Linked DNA regions of Homo sapiens. The protein of the gene in region 1 purifies or fractionates together with the protein of each later gene. This does not show direct contact. Each region holds a gene or a part of one and is shown on either strand. Other genes may lie near its edges.

What was found. Proteins that work in one complex are often made in the same cells at the same time.
Region 2: the proteins of MTA3 (region 1) and HJURP purify together in Homo sapiens (affinity purification with mass spectrometry, with the first as the bait; one large-scale study listed by BioGRID). This does not show direct contact.
Region 3: the proteins of MTA3 (region 1) and MYBL2 purify together in Homo sapiens (affinity purification with mass spectrometry, with the first as the bait; one large-scale study listed by BioGRID). This does not show direct contact.
Region 4: the proteins of MTA3 (region 1) and ARID4B purify together in Homo sapiens (affinity purification with mass spectrometry, with the first as the bait; one large-scale study listed by BioGRID). This does not show direct contact.

The regions. Positions count from the first base shown.
Region 1 is NC_000002.12:42,704,016-42,709,213, reverse strand, and holds part of MTA3 (metastasis-associated protein MTA3), read right to left. Parts: intron 5,021-5,198; coding exon 4,896-5,020; intron 1,312-4,895; coding exon 1,160-1,311; intron 341-1,159; coding exon 118-340; coding exon of another isoform or gene 95-117; exon of another isoform or gene 1-94. UniProt on the Homo sapiens protein: Acts as a component of the histone deacetylase NuRD complex which participates in the remodeling of chromatin.
Region 2 is NC_000002.12:233,847,318-233,852,515, forward strand, and holds part of HJURP (Holliday junction recognition protein), read right to left. Parts: exon of another isoform or gene 2,543-5,198; coding exon 2,446-2,542; intron 145-2,445; coding exon 80-144; intron 1-79. UniProt on the Homo sapiens protein: Centromeric protein that plays a central role in the incorporation and maintenance of histone H3-like variant CENPA at centromeres.
Region 3 is NC_000020.11:43,704,134-43,709,331, forward strand, and holds part of MYBL2 (myb-related protein B), read left to right. Parts: intron 1-1,085; coding exon 1,086-1,225; intron 1,226-5,198. UniProt on the Homo sapiens protein: Transcription factor involved in the regulation of cell survival, proliferation, and differentiation. Transactivates the expression of the CLU gene.
Region 4 is NC_000001.11:235,320,962-235,326,159, forward strand, and holds part of ARID4B (AT-rich interactive domain-containing protein 4B), read right to left. Parts: intron 1-5,198. UniProt on the Homo sapiens protein: Acts as a transcriptional repressor. May function in the assembly and/or enzymatic activity of the Sin3A corepressor complex or in mediating interactions between the complex and other regulatory complexes.

The sequences.
Region 1 (5,198 bases):
TGTACACAAGAACTTATGTTTATTGCAAACAAACAAACAAAAAAAAAAGGAAAGAGAGGAAAAGAGAAAATGGTCAGAAGCACAACATATAAGGTTAAGAATTTAAAAGCATCTTACATTCTGCCCTAATGGCAGCATAATTAATAGCAACAAACGGCCGTCTTGCTGCCTGCCGCAGCCGGAGGGTATTTTTGCAGACCTGACGAGCAAATTTTGTGAAATATGTAGTATGAAGGAAGAAAGCTTGGCGGGTCTTCACTGCAGACTTTGGACTCCCAGTGTTTCGGACTGGCATTCCCTGCATGGCCTGGCGGGACACGTGACTTCTAACACGAGGGTCCTGCAAAATCAGAAAACAACAAACACTCAAGGAAGTGAACTTGCCCAAACACGTTACTGTTTGCATCATGCTCAAAAGAAAAGTGCAACTTTTAAATCTTTCATGAAGCATCTATAACGTCACTTGGTGCACTACCTCTAAAAGAGAGAATTAAAGTGTGCACTTTTGGGAAAGAGGTGGGGAGTAGAGAAGGGAACTGTGGAGAATACTGTACTGCTATACAGGAATCCAAAATCACATTCACAGTAAGTGGTATGAAACTGCCAAGGGGGTTAACTACACTTTTTTTTAAATTAAGGAGTCCTGAAAGCCCGTCAGCACTGAAAAAGGGTAGTCGCCCACTGGTAAACACAGGCGTTTGGCATCTTCAGCCTATGAGGATTTTACCAAAATCACATTTAAACTGTTGTTCACCTCAAGATTAAGTCCATACTTCTTGTCCCTCCAAAACAGCCACGGGGAGAAAAAATGCTTAATTTGCATTTATGACTTTATGTAGTAAGACACGCCTTCAACAGAATGTAAAGGTTACGAACTGTTTTCAAAAGCAATTAAACATTTAATTTGTAAGCTCTCTACTTATGCTAACATCTCCCACACTCATTGTTTTTTTGTCTGAGACCATTATTCTGAATACCTGATAAAATTTAATTTCTCTCTGCTTCTCTCCACACCTACCCTGAATATTGTAGTGCTACGTTTAGCTATAAAGGTAGCTTTCTTCATTTTTTAATTATCCTATACTGTACTTCTGTTTCCAAGGAATAATCAACCCATTTAAAAACATGCCATTTTTCAACACTAAAAAGACTACTGTACCTCTGTAGTTGGGCTAGGAGATAACTTCTCTTCTTCTGACTGGGTGGGCATTTTCAAGCCTCCATATTTTTTCCAATAAAGCCAACAAATTGCACATAATCTACACTGCATATTAGGTGGGCCCCAAGAATACCACTGGTGAGACTGTGTAGCTAAAGCAGAAGAAAAATAAGAAAAAACGAAAAATGCTATTTAATTTGTAACATCAACACAAAATAATCAAACATTTTAAAAATACTTGTCATGCTTAGTTTACAATGTTATTGTTCCCAGCTTACAAGCCAAACATAATAGTATATTTGTTTTTTTAATACTCAGAATTCATTAAACCAACTTATTTCCATTATTATATAAAGTGCTTGTGGCCCTGTTAAAGCTATTCAGTGAAGCATCCTGTATTATGCATTGTGCTGCTGAGGGAGTTTTTGTTTTGTTGATTAAAAATACTCTATTGTGTATGTTTCTGGAAATAGGTTCTCAAAAAGATGGTAGTATTTAAAAAATCTGGGGCCGGACATGGTGGCTCACGCCTGTAATCCCAGCACTTTGGGAGGTTGAGGCAGGCGGACCATGAGGTCAGGAGATCAAGACCATCCTGGCTAACACGGTGAAACCCCGTCTCTACTGAAAACACACAAAAAAAATTAGCCAGGCATGGTGGCACGCACCTGTAGTCCTAGCTACTCGGTAGGCTGAGGCAGTAGAATTGCTTGAATGTGGGAGGCAGAGGTTACAGTGAGCTGAGATCACGCCACTGCACTCCAGCCTGGGCGACAGAGTGAGGCTCCATCTCAAAAGAAAAAAAAAAAAAATCTAAATCCACGTTTCCAAACCCAGGGTTCAGACACCACTCCAAGGATTATTTAAGGTACTCAGGGAGGTCTCATTGATAAAGTCAGGAATCTAATAAAAACAGGTATCTGTCAGCCAGGTGTGGTGGTGAACCCCTGTAGTCCCAGCGACTACAGAGACTGAGGCAGCAGGACTGCTTGAGCCTGGGAGGTTGAGGCCACTGTGATTGCACCACTGCATTCCAGCCTGGGTTACAGAGGGAAGCGGGGAGGAGGAGGGGGCTGGGGAGGGGAAGAGGGAGGGAGTAGGGGAGGAGAGAAGAAACAAACAGGTATCTGTTTTGCACTCCTTTATTTTAATCAATAAGTAAAATCCTTATTTTAAAATCTCCATTTACAGACAGAATCCCTTTCAAGACTCTAAATCCATATGAAGTGAGCATGGGCAGCTGACATCACAGCATGCTTGAGGCCTAAAACTCAGATGATTTAACAGCTAGCTGAACACTGTAAGCTTGTGTTAGTTTTTGTTTTGTAGTTTAAATTACTGACATGTGACATTTAAAATACATGTGTGATAGATCTGAAGTTTAAGAGAAAACATTGAGGTTGAGACATAAGTTAATTGGGTGCATAAAAAATTGTAATTCTGTAAGTTTGCCTTAAAATATTATTTCTCTGACCTGTAAGTTACCTTCAAATGTTCAAACAGCACATGAAGATATCAACTAACACTTCACAAACCAATGTGAAAAAGAGAAAATACAGAGACCATTATATTCATGTTTATCGGGAATAACACTGTACACCCATCATGTATTATTTTTGGAGGATTATTATTTTAGGCTTTTATTTGTGTAAATATTTTAGGCCTATTTTAGGCTTTCATTTATACAAATAACTATTTTATACAAATGAAAGCCTAAAAGCCTTTCCTCCTATAATTTAGAACTAATAAGTCATTTTTTAAATTTTTTATTTTATTATTATTATACCTTAAGTTTTAGGGTACATGTGCACAATGTGCAGGTTAGTTACATATGTATACATGTGCCATGCTGGGGTGCTGCACCCATTAACTCGTCATTTAGCATTAGGTATATCTCCTAAAGCTATCCCTCCCTGCTCCCCCCACCCCACAGCAGTCCCCAGATGTGATGTTCCCCTTCAAAATCTTAAACATTAAGCTATGAATCTATTTTGAATTCTAAATATAAAATTTCACTTAAAACATACATTTTACGTAAACTAATCATGCAAATCATTTTAATAATTGTCAATAAATGCCTTTCTCCTTAAATAACTCAAATTCAATTGGAAAGTAGGTATCATTTAATAAATAGAAAACATCAAGTTCTATCTCTCTGTAAGGATAAATCTTATATTAAGATAACATTTTATCATGGAGATTAGTAATACATGAGTCTAAAGTAAATATTATAAAATAAAAATAGCTTATTCATCATGCACACATAAAAATAACAGAATAATCATTTAAGGGGATATACGTGAGTGTGAAAGGGGTTTGCAAGTTAATTTTTTTTTTGGGGGCGGGGGGGAGACGATGTTTCACTCTGTCACCCAGGTTGGAGTGCAATGGTGCAATCTCAGCTCACTGCAACCTCTGCCTCCTGGGTTCAAGCTATTCTCCTGCCTCAGCCTCCTGAGTAGCTGGGATTACAGGTGCATGCCACCATGCCTGGCTAATTTTTGGTATTTTTAGTAGAGACGGGGTTTCACCATGTTGGCCAGGCTGGTCTCGAACTCCTGACCTCAGGTGATTCACCCGCCTCAGCCTCCCAAAGTGCTGGGATTACAGGCATGAGCCACAGCACCCTGCCTGCAAGTTAAAATCAAGACAGGTTAAGCCACTACCACTTGTCTGCAGGATTCTTTTCATTTTCATTTGAATATACATGAACTACAAAATCCAAGAATTCCCAATTCAAGGTATTTATGATGCTATCCATGTAAAAGCCTGACCTAAAAAATCTTAATTTTCCACAAATTGTTTCCCTTTGTGCTCCCATGCTGCAAAAAAATGGTTAAACACATCCCCATGTACCATTTCTACAAATTCAGCAACTTGGCTCACACCTTCCTTGGGATCAATCGACGTAATCGTACTCACAGCCGTCCCTCATTCCTATATCCTTCCTGAAGGCAGTAGGCTACATGTACTCTCAAAGAGCTACTAAGAACCCAAAATGGGGCACCAAGTAGGTTTTCAATAAACATTCGTTTCCTTCCCTCTCCCATCCCAGGCTACCTTAACTGGAAGGAAACATAGATGATAATATCACCAATGCCCCATTAAGATATTGTATCCTTGCTTGAGATTTAAAATAAACACACAAAGTCTATCAACTACCTAACGGTTCACTTCACCGACCCCATTTAACACCCTGGGCAAATAAAATACTGCCACCATAGATAAATACAGTGGGATCCTGAGGCCAAAAGCAAGTATCATAGAAGAGCATTTCCCAAACTGGTGCACTGAGGGAACATGGTCTGAGGATTATATACAGCAGCTTATCCACACAGAGGCCTTTCCTACAGAATTACTTGGAGCTTTAATTTGTCAAAGTATACTGAGAAACTCCAAAGGGGAATTTGGTATGCATCATGGGAACACAGTTTCTGCAAAGCTAATATGACTCTAAACACAACTCAGCAAACACTGCTATGAAATAATCAACAAACCACAAGAGTACATCAAGGGAAATCCAATGCCTAACTTGAGTGTGTGGTACGTAATAAGGATTCAATAAACAGTCCCTCTGTTCCAGGCAGAAGGTAAGGAGGGGCATCTACTCATTTAGAGGAGACATGCTTGTGCCTTCCAAGGTGCACCGTACTGACCTCAGGCACTTCCCAGACGCTCACACCCCATGAGCCAGAACAGTTCCCGATGCTTAACTGACCTGCTAGAGAAAACTTACCATAGCAGCTCTCACAGGCTCTCCCTAAGAGAGGATTCTGAGGCTGGAACGTGGTCCCCACAGCTCCATTCACAGCACCAGGCTTCCCATTACTAGTGGATATTTGGTTGGGATTTGGTTTGCTGCTTTCAATGAAATTAAAATAAGGTGATAAAATGATTTGTACAATAAGGCAAAAAGCTCTATATCATTACTGATTTACCGTCACTATTTAATAAACATAAACAAACATTTTAAAATGTGTGAAGAAGAAATAAACTGGTAAAACCAAGGTGTTAAATGAACTCACACTACTCATCTTTA
Region 2 (5,198 bases), about 190 Mb from region 1:
TCAGGCCACATGGGCTTTGATGGACCCCTGAGCCCCCAAGCGCCCCCTCTGTCCATTCATTACTAAAGGCAGCACTTACTGCTAAGGCCCAAGCAACTGACTCTTCCTGGTCTGACGTGGCATCGACCTCACCGCTTTTTGAATCTAAAAGTCAAACAAGTAAATCTCAATCAGGATTTTCAGGAAGGAGTGCATTTTCCTCTCAAGGATGGTTTTGGCATCACTTCGAGTAAGTTGTACAGTAAAAATCCCCATTGCTTCAAGGGTGCACCCACTGGAGCCATCTACGGCTGCCCGTGGTTCTTAGTAACCCAGAGAACCCCTAGAATGGGAAACTGCCTGGGGCCATGGAGTGAGGAAAGGCAGATTCTGCACCACCTCCAGCTTTCCATGGCCTCTGAGCCTGGAAGTTGAGACGCTCAAGCCCAGCACTGCTCGACAGAACTTCCGGTGACCATGGAAAGTTCTCTGCCTGCTGTCCTAGGCCAGCCACTAGCCACACCGGGCTACTGAACAGCTGGGATGTGGCCAGTAAGGCTGAGGAAATGGATTTTAAATTTTATTTCACTTTCAACTAATTTAAATATCATCCAGAGAGGGCTGGTGGGTGCCATACTGGGCAGTACATCTATCAAATAACTATTTCCTGTGATTTCAAGCGGTTGGGGAAATTCATGGACCTAAGGATTTATAGTTAAAATCTGGATTAATAGCAGTAAACACATAGCACCACAGGTAAATATCCTCATGAAGAGCTTTCCAATTCTACTCTGAAAGACCACCAGCTTCCCTTTAGCGACTCAACACCCATCACTAACTATTGGTGTAGGCAAGGTGCCAGGAAAGGGACTGGGCAGAGGGGGACAGAGGCTGCGGAAGGCCAGTGTCCAGGAGAGACAGGTGTTTAAAGGCTAGTGACAAAACTGTTTCGCAAGCAGAGGAACCCAGGTCTAAAGAGCTCAGATAAGAGTGGGGGTCTGTTCCAGCCTGGGGATCACAGGGGCTTCCCGGGGGCAGCAAGGAGGCCATGCGGTCAGGCAGGACTTCAGGCCCCATTCTGGGTTCTGGCCTTTTACCCCAAAAGCAATGGGAAGCCACGTGTTGCATCAGAGAAGCGGCTTGACCACATTCACAGGGGCGTCAGTGGGGCGGAGGGAGCCCGGGTGGGGTTGGAGGCTGGTGCTCAGCGGGGACATGAGAGCTAACGAAGCACAAGGCACAGGACAGGGATGCCTTGGCCATGAGGAATGAGGCAGAGGCTGAGATGAAGATCCTGGGTTTCTGGCTAACGCTAGAGGGAAGACGGCAGGGGCCTGTACTGAGGCGCAGAGCAGAAGATGGGGAGCCTGTCTGTCGGGCTGAGTCTTAGCTGTGCCAAGTCTGGACATGAAGTATTGAAGCAGAGGGGCTGCTGGGCAGTAAAACGCCCCCAGTTGAGTTCTGGCTGGAGGTTACAGTCAGCACACAGAGAAGCCATGGCTCCACCTGGGGGAAGGGCAAAGGCAGCTCAAACAAACCCTCTAGAAAGGGCATCCAGCAGGGACGGGAGGCGAGCAGACTGCAGGCTTGGAAGGACGAAGACAGAAGGAGGAAAACTGGAGGAGCATGGGGCCGAGGAGCAGGGGGCCACAGAGGCCCAGGCCAGAACTTCTGGAAGGTTTAAATGCAATGGAGAGCGCAAAACCCAAAGAATAAAACCCAAAGAATGCTAACAGGATTTAGCAATGGGGTTGTGAGAAACCTCACCCAGAGTTGGGCTTTAGAGATGGAGCCGAAAGGAGTCGGGAGAGGAGGAACACACGGGGTTGGTGGGGTAGGGAATCCATGGCACCAAACGGAGCAGGTTATTTCACTCTGGTGGTAAAGGGAACTGGGCAAAGGGATGTGGCAAGGAAGGGGCCCAGGACAGGGGAGAGCCACGAAGGGTCTGATGTATCTAACGTGAGTCTGAGCGCATCTAAATACCGACGGATGGATCCAGGGGACAGAGACTGAAGACAGAAGGAAGGGGTGAGGGACAGATTCCCTAGAAAAGAGGACAGGATGGGGGTGGGCAGTGAGACTGGCCTGGGGAAAAGGAAGGAGCCTCCTAGGAGGACGAAGTGGGAAGCTGCCCTATAGAAGTGAGGGTTCACAACACCACCCTGTAGGGGCAAATCTTAAGTCTTACTAAATCTGGATATTAACTTTTCACATGGAGGGGCATGTTTATTTACTCAAAAAACACCTGAGTACCATTCATATGTCAGGCACCGGATGTAACTGTGGGCAAGGCAGAGCTCAGAAGGAATCAACAGGGTACTTTAACATGATTTTAGTTTTTAAGATATACCTTAGAAAAAATAAAAACTTCACTACTGAGGAATCTAGGCTTTAAGCTGTTGTAACAGGTGCGTCAGACCTGGTCCCTCCTGACTTCAGTTCTCTGACGAAGGCAACACTCACCGGCTCCCAGGACTGTGCGGTGCGAGGGAAGCTCAGGACCCCAGGCTGCAGCTTGCACGGAGCCATCTGTCCTGTCCGCGGGCTTCATGGAGGAGTCCTCCAAGTGCAGAAGCCAATAAAAACATGGTTGTTTGAGTGACAGCACATTTCAAAGTCACCGCAAAATAATAAAACTGCAATCCTTCTGTTAACACAGGAGACAGCAAGAGCCTGCCACAAGGCTTCTCTTCTCCCTGCATGTCCACTTTATAAGAGGCCTCAAGAGCGTAGGAAGGAGCTGAGGCTCCCCTGGGTTGCAGCGGGGGCTGCTACTTAAAAAGCCACTTGGAAGGAGCAGGGAAAGTCAGGGGCCCAGGCACGAGCAGATAAGCTCACACCTCCTAACAGTGGCCCAGGGATGACAGGGACTGGGGCAAACAAAAAGCCAAATTGAAACAGAACAAAATTGTCCTGAGGTCATCAGCGAGAACAGAGAAATAGGCAAGTGGCCCCTGGGCAACTTCCTGTGATCTTTAAAGAATATGCTGGAGTATTTAAGGCGGGGAGGAGCCAGTTTAAGCCCAAGCTAACGCACAGAGGCAGCTGCTTGTCCTGACCAGGAGCTCATACCTGGTGGGCAGAGGTGGTCGGGCGGCCACACTCCTGGTCAGGCCTGCTTCAGCTCTCCAGAGCCTGCTCTATAGCAGGCCCCACGAATAATCCCAGAGCATGGCATCGGTGGGTTCTCAGTAATGAAATTCAAGCATTCAGGATACCAGATTGGCTGAAATATTAATATTTTAGGAACCACCCAGCCTTATAAAAACAGGGCGTGAGAAGGTGGCGAGGCCTATACCGTTAGGGATGGTCCTCAGGTGTCAACTCTGAGGGTTCAGAGGACTTGGGGCTACCCAGGAGCACTACAGGGTAACTGAAGCCCACTTCCAGAATATCAGAACCTTTGCTTCCAGTGAAACCGTCACGTAAGGTGGAGTTTACAGGGTTGTTTTGTGGCTGTGTCTGAGGCAGAACCTGGTTTGAGAATCACAGAGAAGCAGACGATCTACACCAACCCCAAACTATGTGGTAGCTCTGGTAGCTACAAACAGAACCCAGGCATTGTGTTATAACCAACCCAGCACAGGTCAACACCCGGCCTGCCAGGGCCCACAGCCTCCCCCAGCCTCCAGGGCGGCAGGAGCACCAAGTCGTCTGGGAAAAGGTGAAGGCGGATCTGGACACTGTCACCAATAGCAATTACAGTGAAGTCAGAGATGTCCCCGCTGAAATCTCAGGCTACGCCCAGTTTCCTAATCCCAAGAAAGGGTCTGAAGATTCTGGAGACCCAGGTAGGGTTCCTCCTACATTTTAAGCAAAAACCTTAAATAAATCTTTAAATGAAAACTTTTTGCTACCAGGACCATATTAAGCACTGGTCTAATGAGTGGACATCTGTATTATGCATAATTCAAAGAGTATATATACTTTAACCCGATAATCCCACTTCTCAGCATTTATCGAAAAGGGGGACTATCAGTATTGGGAAGAGACAAGGACCGGGATTTTCTCTGAAAACCATTTCTAACAGAGGCTTTATAAATAAAGTTTTATTGGAACACTGCCACGTACACTCATTTACATATTATTTTCGGCCACTTTCCTCCTGCAACACAGAGCTGAGTAGTTACAACAGAGACCATAGAGCCAGCAAAGCCTAAAATATGTATCATCCGGCCCTTTGTGGAAAAAGTGTGCTGACCCTTATTTATTAATAAAGGAAGCCACAAATAGCTAATTGCCTATCAACAGGAGAGCAGTTAAAAAAACATGATTTTTTAAATAATTATATAATTTTATAATTATACAACAGTTGATGAAGAGAAGAGTTTGCCAGATGTATTAACCGGAAAAGTGAGGGAGAAAAAAATGCATTTATAAAGATATGTATTATAGGGAATCACATTGTACTAAAATAGCATTAGTGACCATCTTTGCAGAGAGGAATCAGCTCATTTATGTAGTTGTATGTACTTTTAACATTTTTATGACTAGAATAATTAATCAAGAAGATTTGATTTCAAATTTGCTGTTAATATCGTCACATTGATCTTGATGTTTTTCATTCTTTCATACAGGTTCCTTGACCTGTGACCACAGAGAGGAACCATGTGGCATCTGAGAGGCAGTGATTAACTGAATACCAGATAACCTGGCAAAAGCCACTGTGGCAAAAGGGCTCCTGGATGCCCCCGTAGAAAGGCCAACAGCACCTTCCACTAAAATAACGGGTCTCAGAGCGACAACACCCTCGGATCAACTAGGCAGGGAAGCCAGGGTCTTCCGAAGGTAGAAAAATGCAGAAGGAAAGATGTGTGATCCTCCAGGCTGCACCTCTCCTCATCTCTCTTCCTCCCCTTTCAAAACAGGAAGAGAGACATTCTTCTTCCCTAGAAGGAACTGGATTTGGTATTTTCTGTAAGGACCCAAACAAAGTGAGTGCCTCGCTGGGCTGGCACGTGACCTTGGGGAGGGTTACCCAACTGGCCCAGCCTCTGCACATGTATTATCAGAGCCCCTCAGCCTGTGACACAGGAAACACAGGGTGATGAAAAAGGCCAAATATTACACAGTGACTCCTTGCACTTGACAAGCTACAGAAGAAATGCTTCTAAATCCTTAAAAACAGAAAGAGTATAATCATGAGAAAAAGTGCCCCGTGGTGGCCTCTGCGTAAGCTCAGAGGTTGGGCATACCCACACCTTTATTCATATGAA
Region 3 (5,198 bases), on another chromosome or scaffold:
CTCCTGAGCAGCTGAGATTATAGGCATGAGCCACCATGCCCGGCTATTTTTTTTGTATTTTTAGTAGAGACAGGGTTTCTCCAGGTTGGCCAGACTGGTCTCGAACTCTTGACCTCAAGTGATCCACCTGCCTCGGCCTCCCAAAGTGCTGGGATTACAGGCGTGAGCCACCGCGCCTGGCCTAACTAACCACTTTAAAGGCCCTATCTCCAAGTATTAATACAGTCCCATTCTGAGGTGCTGAGAGTTGGGACTTCAGGATGTAAATTTGGGGGAGACACAGGTCAGCCTGTAACATGCCGCAAGTGAGGGCTGCTGGCTGGAGAAGGAAGGCAGCGGGTCCCTCAGCTACTATTTGGGAAGCTCAGGATGATGGAGCGTGGTCGCTCTACTCCAGAGACCCCATTTAGGGTGGTGACCCTGAGGGTTGCAGATGGCTCTCTATTATAGCACCTTCAGGGCAGGGAGGGAAGAGAGCGGGGTGCTTCAAAGGATGGATGTTGGCTTAGATCTAGATTTCATTCTCACTTCTAGCACTCAGTGCAAGACTCAAAACCTCTCTAAGCGTTGGTTTTCTTATCTGTAAAAGGGGGATAGTAATAGTGCCTATGTCTCAGGATTTGTGGTAACTAATTGAAATTATTTGTGTGAAGTGCTTAGCACTGGCAAGAGAAGGTGCCCTCTAAATGATAACCCCACCGCCACCAGCACACTACAACTGTCACATGCCTTTTGCCTTCACAGGTCAGTTCAGAGCTAGTTTTATTTCTTCTGAGAAGGAGCCACTCTCCCACAGTTGGCTTCCTGTGCCTTAACTGCGTCGTCAGCACTCGAGTAGAGATGGCAAAAGCTAGGATTAGGGTGACGGAAGCCCAGAGGTCTGTGTGAACCTGCTTGGTGGGCTCCTGGCATCGATCTGTCCCAGTCCTTGTTCTCGGGTGTCTGATGGGTCAAGAGGGGACCTCAGTATCAGAGCAGACGTTTTGGGGGAGAGGCTCAAGGATCTCTCCCCATGATCCCCTGAGGTCTCAGGGATACTCATGCAGGTCATCATTTTGTCTTGTTCCCTCTCTCTTCTTTGGCAGTTTCTGAACTTCTGGAACAAACAGGACACATTGGAGCTGGAGAGCCCCTCGCTGACATCCACCCCAGTGTGCAGCCAGAAGGTGGTGGTCACCACACCACTGCACCGGGACAAGACACCCCTGCACCAGAAACATGCTGCGTGAGTGCTGCAGTGCCCCCAACCTTCGCCGTCCTCTCCCTCAGCAACACCAGACCATGGGCCTTGGGACCACTGGTGGAACAGTGGGGAGGGGGCACCCTTGGAATAACACTGAAGACTGTTTTAAGAAAGCCCTCTCCTTTCTGGCCACCACGATTTATCATTTTTATCGATATAGTTTTGGGCTCCACCTTTGCTTTTCCTCATTTGTATTTTTTAATTTGATAGTTTCCTTTTTTGTGATCCTCCTGCCTCAGCCTCCTGAGTAGCTGGGACTCCAGGTGCATGCCACCATGCTCAGCTAATTAAAAAAATATTTATTTATTTATTTATTTATTTATTTATTTATTTATTTATTTTGAGATGGAGTCTTGCTCTGTTGCCCAGGCTGGAGTGCAATGGCGCGATCTTGGCTCACTGCAAGCTCCGCCTCCCAGGTTCATGCCATTCTCCTGCCTCAGCCTCCCGAGTAGCTAGGACTACAGGCATCCGCCACCGCGCTCAGCTAATTTTTTGTATTTTTAGTAGAGACAGGATTTCACCGTATTAGCCAGGATGGTGTCGATCTCCTGACCTCGTGATCCTCCTGCCTCAGCCTCCCAAAATGCTGGGATTACAGGCGTGAGCCACCACACCCGGCTAAAATTTTTTTAAGAGGTGAGGTCTTGCTACTTTATCTGGGCTGGTCTTGAACTGGCCTTAAAGTGATCTTCCTGCCACAGCCTCCCAAAACGCTGGGATTACAGGCGTGAGCTACTGCACCTGGCCCTCATTTGATAATTTTCTGTCTCAGGAATGGAGAGTCCAAATTAGCCTGAAAAACATAATCTCTTCCGCTTCCTAAGGTTTCAGGTGCAAATTCGTTGTGTTTGAGCAGCCTTATGTGCAGGGCGAAAGTGCCCATCCCTCTATCAAGAGTGGAGACTGCATTCCTGTCCTCTGAGCTTACGGAGCATGACATTTTCTGTCTGGAAGCCTGTACAGGTTGCTCGCCAGCCTGCTTTTACAATGGAAGTGCTTTTACAATAAGTTTACTTCCTTGGGTCATCATGATTCTAAATTCCAGGTAGAGAGAGTTGCTTAACTATTCCTCTGCTTGATACATTTGCTGGAGGAGGAAATCGCTATTTTGTGATTCAGAAATCAGCTCAGGAATTTTAGCCCTGATAGTGATACATAATTTCGGGAAAAGATTTGTGAATCCCTTAGTCAGAAATCAGTCTCCAAAGTCCGGCTCAGTGGCTCACACTTGTAATCCCAGCGCTTGGGAGGCCAAGGTGGGAGGATCACTTGAGACTAGGGGTTTAAGACCAGTCTGGGCAATATAGGGAGACCCTGTCTGTACACAAAAAAAAAAAAAGTTTTTTTTTTTTTTGAGATGGAGTCTTGCTTTATCACCCAGGCTGGAGTGCAGTGGTGCAATCTCGGCTCACTGCAACCTCCGCCTCCCGGGTTCAAGCAGTTCTCCTGCCTCAGCCTCCTGAGTAGCTGGGATTACAGGCACGCGCCACCACACCCAGCTAATTTTTGTATTTTTAGTAGAAACGAGGTTTCACCGTGTTGGTCAGGCTGGTCTCAAACTCCTGACCTTGTGATCCACTCGCCTCGGCTTCCCAAAGTGCTGGGATTATATGTGTGAGCCACTGCTCCCAGCCAAAAAAAATTTTTTTAATTAGCTGGGCGTGGCCGTGTGTGCCTGTAGTCCCAGCTACTCGGGAGGCTGAAGTGGGAGGATTGCTTGAGCCCAGGAGTTTGAAGCTGCAGTGAGCTATGATTGGCTACTGCACTCCAGCCTAGGTGACAAAGCGTGACTCTCTTTCTAGTTTTTTTTTTTTTTAAAAAAAAAAGAGAAAAAAGAAATCAGTCTCTAAAGAGTTGATCTAAAGCATAACTTAGATAGGTTTCGTGAGAAATGATTGTCCGTTCAAACCAGAATCTTGGACTTCGCATCTAAGCCCTTAAACAGAGATGCTGTCACTACAAAAGGCATTGATACTTCTCTCTCTCCCTTTCTTTCTTATCCATGTGGCCTCATTTGCTGCCTCCTTCCAATTCCTTTTTTCCATAGGAAGAAGCATCTCCAGTGCTCTTCATTCCTCTTTAGATCCATATTTCCATCTGGTTCCTTCTGAAGGCCATCCTTTAACCATGTAGTGTGGGCTTGCTGGTGATGAGTTCTAATTTTTATATTTTTTTGCTAATTTTTCTATTTTTTTGTAGAGATGGGGTTTCGCCATATTGGCCAGGCTGGTCTCGAACTCCTGACTCAAATGGCCTGCCTCGGCCTCCCAAAGTGCTGGGATTACAGGCGTGAGCTGTAATCCAGCTGTTATTCCTTTGTAGAGAGTCTCTTTAGTTATCCCTCAAATTTGACAGGCTGTATGGTGGTGTGGTATTTCTCTATTTTTTTCCCCCCCGGCTTTCATATCAGACTAAAGATTCAAACCTTGAGCTGAGGAAGTGTTTATTTCTTTAGTTTTTCTTTCCCTGTCTGCCCCTTCTCCTACCTTAGGAATTCCTTCATATATAGGCTGGATTGGTCTCTGTGTCTTTTTCGTCTTCATACGCCTCTTCACCATCTTAAGCCATTTCCTTAATCTTCGGAGAACATGATGGGATTGTTTTCTGATTCACCAGTTTGGTTGTCTGTGGTTTCCAACTTGCTGAATTCTCTGATTTACAGAGCTGCATTTTTTATCTCCAAGCAATCTTTTGAATTCCCTTTTCAAGTCAGCCTCCCTGCCTCCCTGAGTTTTCTTTTTGAGACAGTCTTGCTCTGTCCCCAAGGTTGAATACAGTGGTGTGATCATGGCCCACTGCAACTTCTACCTCCCAGGATCAAGTGATCCTCCCACCTCAGCCTTCTAACTAGCTGAGAACACAGGTGTGCACCACCATGCTTGGCTAATTTTTTTGTTTTTTTGAGAGACAGGGTCTCACTGTGTTGCCCAGGCTAGTCTTGAACTCTGGGACTCAAGCAATCCTTCCGCCTCAGCCTCCTAAAGTGCTGGCATTACAGGGGTGAGCCACAAGGCCCGGCCTCTCCCTGAGTTTTCTAATGTGTGTATATACACTCTTTTTTTTCTTTTTTCCGAGACAAGGTCTCTCTTAGTCACCCGGGTTGGAGTGCAGTGGTGCAATCATGGCTCACTGCAGCCTTGAATTCTGGGCTCAAGTGGTCCTCCTACCATAGCCTCTGGAGTAGTTGGGACTACAAGCACCACCATGGCTGGCTGATTTTTTTATTTTTAGTAGTGATGGAGTCTGTGTTACCCAGACTGTTCTTTAACTCCTGGCCTCAAGTGATCCTCTCCTGTCAGCCTAACACTAATCCCAGAGTGTTAGGATTACAGGCGTGAACCACTGCCTTTGGCCATGTGTGTGCTCTTAGTCCTTGTTGATGCCACGAATTAGAGAGGTTCTGGAATTTTCTCATGTTCCTCAGAAACTCCATGTCCCATGGAGATGCTTGAGTGGCTCAGATTCACCTCTGTGAATTGTGGTTTGAACTGTAAGATGTGTACATTTGACTTGTGCTTATCTGTCTTCACTCTTCCTTACAGAGGGGGATCTCTGTGTGTCCCAGATGGGGGATAACAAGGGTTTGGGAAGAGACTGTGGATCCCTGCCTAATCTCTAGGTCCTGAGGAAGGAAGAAAAGAATGGTCTGCATTTGTTCTAGTTTTTTATCTCCCCATGGAGTGGCTGGCCAGCTGCGGGAAGTGGAGGCGGCGAGGCCCCAGGCTGCTGTTTCTAGGAGTTGGCCTCATCACCCAGGTCCCTGGCTACCTGGGGTGTTTCTCTCATCCTCTGAGTGCCCTGGTTATGCCATGAGAGTCAGCCATGGTGGTATCTCCAGGTGACTAAGGTCACATACCAGCACACAAGGGTTCGTGTTTGTGGAACCTGGTAGCTTCCTTCAGAGCTGACATTTGCCCACAGCCAGCCTGGCCCAGCCCCATACCACCAGCCC
Region 4 (5,198 bases), on another chromosome or scaffold:
TCTTCAAAGCACTTAGCATTATTTTTTTTCTTAACGTGTGTCCACCATAGTAGAAAGTAAACTCCACGAGGGTAAGAACTCTTGTTCTATTCACTGCTGCATCCTCAAAACCCAGAACAATGTCCGGTACAAGGAAAGTACACAATGTGTTCAATGACTGAATTCACTGGCTGACTTGGCAAAAACATTCTTCAGTGACATAGGTACTCACCTAGTATTTTTTTTAATTACAATAAACAAAGATTTAGCAATTTGGACAGAAAACATGTTAGTATTTTACAAGATTACCTATTCATCTAAAGGACCACAAATTTATAGCACAAAATTTGCCATGTTATGGATCTTAAATCCCTTCAAATATCATAGATATGAGGTTAACATTCACACCAGATTAACCAAGCCTCTGACTTCATCCTACCTACTTACTCTTACATCTTAACTAGCAGGTCCAATGACAGCATGCTTCAAATGACAGTAACATCTATCTAATTTCCTAAGAAAAAAACCTCCATCTTCTTCCTACCCCAGGATGAGTTACTAGGTCCTGAATTCTACTTCTTTTAAGACAGACTCTTGCTCTGTCGCCCAGGCTGGAGTGCAGTGGCGTGATCTCGGCTCACTGCAAGCTCCGCCTCCCAGGTTCGCACCATTCTCCTGCCTCAGCGTCCTACAGGCGCCCGCTACCAAGCCTGGCTAATTTCTATTTTTTGTATTTTTTTAGTAGAGACGGGGTTTCACTGTGTTAGCCAGGATGGTCTCAATCTCCTGACCTCATGATCCACCCACCTCAGCCTCCCAAAGTGCTGGGATTACAGGTGTGAGCCACTGTGCCCGGCCCTGAATTCTACTTCAAAAAGGCTCAGATCTATCCTCTCTGCTCCACTTCCAATGCATTAGTTCAGGCCCTTATTCATTTTCCACTTGGACTTCTTACCTGGAATTTCCATCCTTACATTCAGCTCTCCCCTTGTTTTTGCAGTGGCCTGATCTCAGCTCACCGCAACCTCCAGCTCCTGGGTTCAAGCAATTCTCAACAACTTTCAATGGTTCCATGTAGTTTTCAAGAAAAAATTTTTTTTTTTTTGAGACAGAGTATTGCTCTTGTCACCCAGGCTGGAGTGCAATGGCATGATCTCGGCTCACTGTAACCTCCACCTCCCGTGTTCAAGCTATTCTTCTGCCTCAGCCTCCCTAATAGCTGGCATTACAGGCTCACACCACCATGCCCTGCTAATTTTGTATTTTTAGTAGAAACAGGGTTTCACCATGTTGGCCAGGCTGGTATAGAACTCAGGTGATCCACCTGCCTCAACCTCCCAAAGTGCTGGGATTACAGGTGTGAGACACCATGCCTGGCCAAGAAAATTTTCGACTCCCTCACTCAGCTTCATCTCCCACCACTGCCCTTTTATTCCTACCCAAACATATCATGCTTTAAGTTAATTCAGTCACACCAAATTACTTACAGTTTCCAGATACTTCACCTTGTTTCGTTCATTTTCCAGTACGTTATCCTCTATCTGAAAAACTTTTCTTCCCTTCTTTGCCTAGCAAAAGCCTTCGCACTCAGCTTAGATGTCAACTCCACCAGAAAACTTTCCATAGCTCTCTGATTTAGCTGTCCTCTTCTGTCCTCTCATAGCATTTCCTACAATTATTTTATGTTGGAATACTCATAAATAGATATGCTAGGAGTTTTGCTTTATTTATCTGCATCTTCTGCTACACTGTGGGCTCCCTGAAAGCAGGTCAGATGCCTCACCCACCTTCATTCTATATTACCTGATATATGAAACGGGTTGTTGTTAAATGAATGACTTATGAAAGGGGTGAGACAGAAGGAAGAGGGGGAAGGAAAAGAACAGAGAGGGGGGAACGAACTGACAGAGTGGATAGGGAGACAAACAAAGGTAGAGGTAGGGGGAGAGAGAGAGAGAACATGTACACACACACAGGGCATTAAAAAAGGGAATTTGTAATCAATCCATTATTTTTTCATGTGGCCTAAGCCAATCATTGTTGAAGAAAGAAAAGTACATCTGGAAAATTCAATCTACGTGGATTCTAAATATAACCACCTTTTTTTTTTTTTTTTTCCTGAAATGGGGTCTCCCTGTCACCCAAGCTGGAGTGCAGTGGTGCCATCTCGACTCACTGCAACCTCCACCTCCTAGGTTCAAGCGATCCTACCTCAGTCTCCTGAGTAGCTGGGAATACAGGCATGCGCCACCATGCCCAGCTAATTTTTTTATACTTTTAGTAGAGACGGGGTTTTCATCACTTTGGCCAGGCTGGTCTTGAACTCCCAACCTCAAGTAATCCACCCACCTCAGCCTCCCAAAGTACTGGGATTACAAGCATGAGCCACCATGCCCGCCAAAGTATAATCATCTAAATCATTCCTCCTCTAAAGATTCTGGTATATCCAGCCCAACCAGCCCATTTTAATTGAAAATTTACTGCTACGTAATAAAAGACGTTAATAACATGTACAATATAGATACAGGAAAAAAAAGTTTGAGTTTAAAAAAAGTAAAAATCGGCCGGGCGCAGTGGCTCACGCCTGTAATCCCAGCACTTTGGGAGGCCGAGGCGGGCAGATCACCTGAGGTCAGGAGTTCGAGACCAGCCTGACCAATATGGAGAAACCTTGTCTCTACTAAAAGCACAAAATTAGCCCGGCATGATGGTGCATGCCTATAATTCCAGTTACTCAGGAGGCTGAGGCAGGAGAACTGCTTGAACCTGGGAGGCAGAGGTTGCAGTGAGCCGAGATCGCACCACTGCACTCCGGCCTGGGCAACAAGAGCAAAAGTCCGTCTTAAAAAAAAAAAGTAAAAATCAACCTGACATAATAAAAATAAGTCTTGGAATTATTTACAAACTTTAATAATCTACCACCTCCTTATAATGTGGTACTGCTGATTTTTATTTTATTTTATTTAGTTTTTTTTTTTTTGAGAGAGAGAGTTTCACTTTTTTCGCCGAGGCTGGAGTTCAGTGGCGCAACCTCAGCTCACTGCAACCTCCGCCTCCTGGGTTCAAGCAGTTCTCCTGCCTCAGCCTTCCGAATAGCTGGGATTACAGGTGTGTGCCACCATGCCCAGCTAATTTTGTATTTTTAGAAGAGACAGGGTTTTACTACGCTGGCCAGGCTGGTCTCAAACTCCCTTGACCTCAGGTGATCCTCCTACCTCGGCCTCCCAAAGTGCTGTGATTACAGGCGTGAGCCACCATGCCCAGCCGGCACCACTGATTTTTAAAAGTCTATCAAGAGCATGAAAAATAAATTCAACATAACACCAACATCACGATCTATGTTACAGCACAAATTCCTTATGTATTACGAATCATATTCCTCAAAAACATACTGTGAAAAAAGTAACATAGCATATATTAGACAGTAATGGGAATGTATTTGTTTACATAAATTCTTAAAGGTAGTACATGGGAAAACTGCTAAAACATACAACACTTCAACTTTAAAACAACACCTAAAAAGTATTACTACATAATCTAACTTTCAATCACCTCAATAAACTGTCACTTAATAAAATTTAAAGATTTGTTGTCGTTAATACAACAGACAATTCAAACTTAAAAGCTTGCTCCCAAGTACAAATATGTTTGGTAAGATCCAATAAATGGCATAAAACCTTCTGTAGCTCAATGATCATCGTAATACAGAAATTACACCAGGCACGGTGACTCTCGCCTGTAATCCCAGCACTTTGGGAGGCTAAGGCGGGAGAGTCACCTGAGCCCAGAAGTTCGACACCAGCCTGGGCAACACGGCAAAACCTCATCTCTACAAAAACTACAAAAATTAGCCAGGTGTGCCTGTAGTCCCAGCTACTCAGGAGGCTGAGGTGGGAGGATTATTTGAGCCCAGGAGGCAGCAGTTACAGATCGTGCCAGCCAGGGTGAAATAGTGAGACTCTATATCAAAAAGAAAAATAAAAAAGAACGAAAGAAATTGGGAACACACAGAAAAAGAAACAAAATTTAGGCCTAATACACTCAACATTAAATAGATTCTGAATTGCAATTTTTGCTAAAGCAAAATACAAATTACAAGAAGCTTCTCATCTTTTATCACATAAGAAATAAAGTTGTAAGAAATAAGCTAAGTTTTTAGTACTAATAATTACTAGCAAATTCTCTGAGATTTGCTATACTTATAATAACAGGAAGTACTTGTATGAAGTTAGAAATTTATTTTAGTAACTTTTTCCTTTTAACGTTAAAAGCACCTTTTTAAAAAATGCAGTAGAATGTAATGCTGAGCACTTAAAATTAGTATTTCTAAAAAGATACCAAAAAATTTGCATTTGGCTAGTATTACCAAGAAACTTTTAAGGCTAAAGTTTCCAACATACTTTCATTTTTTTAAACAGACTACTTAAAAAAAAAAAGGAAACGAAAGGAAGAAAAAAAACATTTTAATCTCAGACTTTCAACTTAACTACATTTCTTTTAACCAAACATTTATAGAGCACCTAAGAAGTGACAAGCACTACAACACTGGGAAATGTGACACATTACATTTACTCCAAACTAAACCTTTTATTTATTCGGCTTCTGAACTTATTATTTCTTACTCAAACCAAAACTTTTCTTAAGAAATTCTCACCCAACATCAAGGTACATATACGAGTTACCTAATAAATGCACTTTCACCACTGTTTTACACAGGTGATGAGAGTTATAGCTAGGATTTGTGACTAACAAAAGGGATTCATTCCTGAAACATGTCTATGCTTCATGAAATGAGATAGGAATAAACTGTTTCAGGTAGTTTACAGCATCCCAAACTCAAAGAGAAAACCTTAAAAAAATTAGACTAAACTTAATTACTCTGTATAGTAGACCAAGATTTAAGTAGCCACAGCTTTTACCTTCTACAACCACAAGTATTACAAATTTTAATTTGGATGCAAAATTGTCAAAGCAGTCTTGATTCTGAGGACAAGTGAAATATTTTTTTAAATAGTTCAAAGGAACTGTCAAAAGTAGACAACGTTGATATTCTAACATGCTATCTGTTGCATTTCTACACTTGTGAACACTCTACCCTTTTCAAGCACTTCTGAATTTGTAATGGATGAAAAAATACAAGCTAGTGTCTAAGTTCCACCAGTTGAATCCAGACTTTTCAAAAATCTAAGGTTTTATTCTAGCATGTGTTTAAAAAAAAA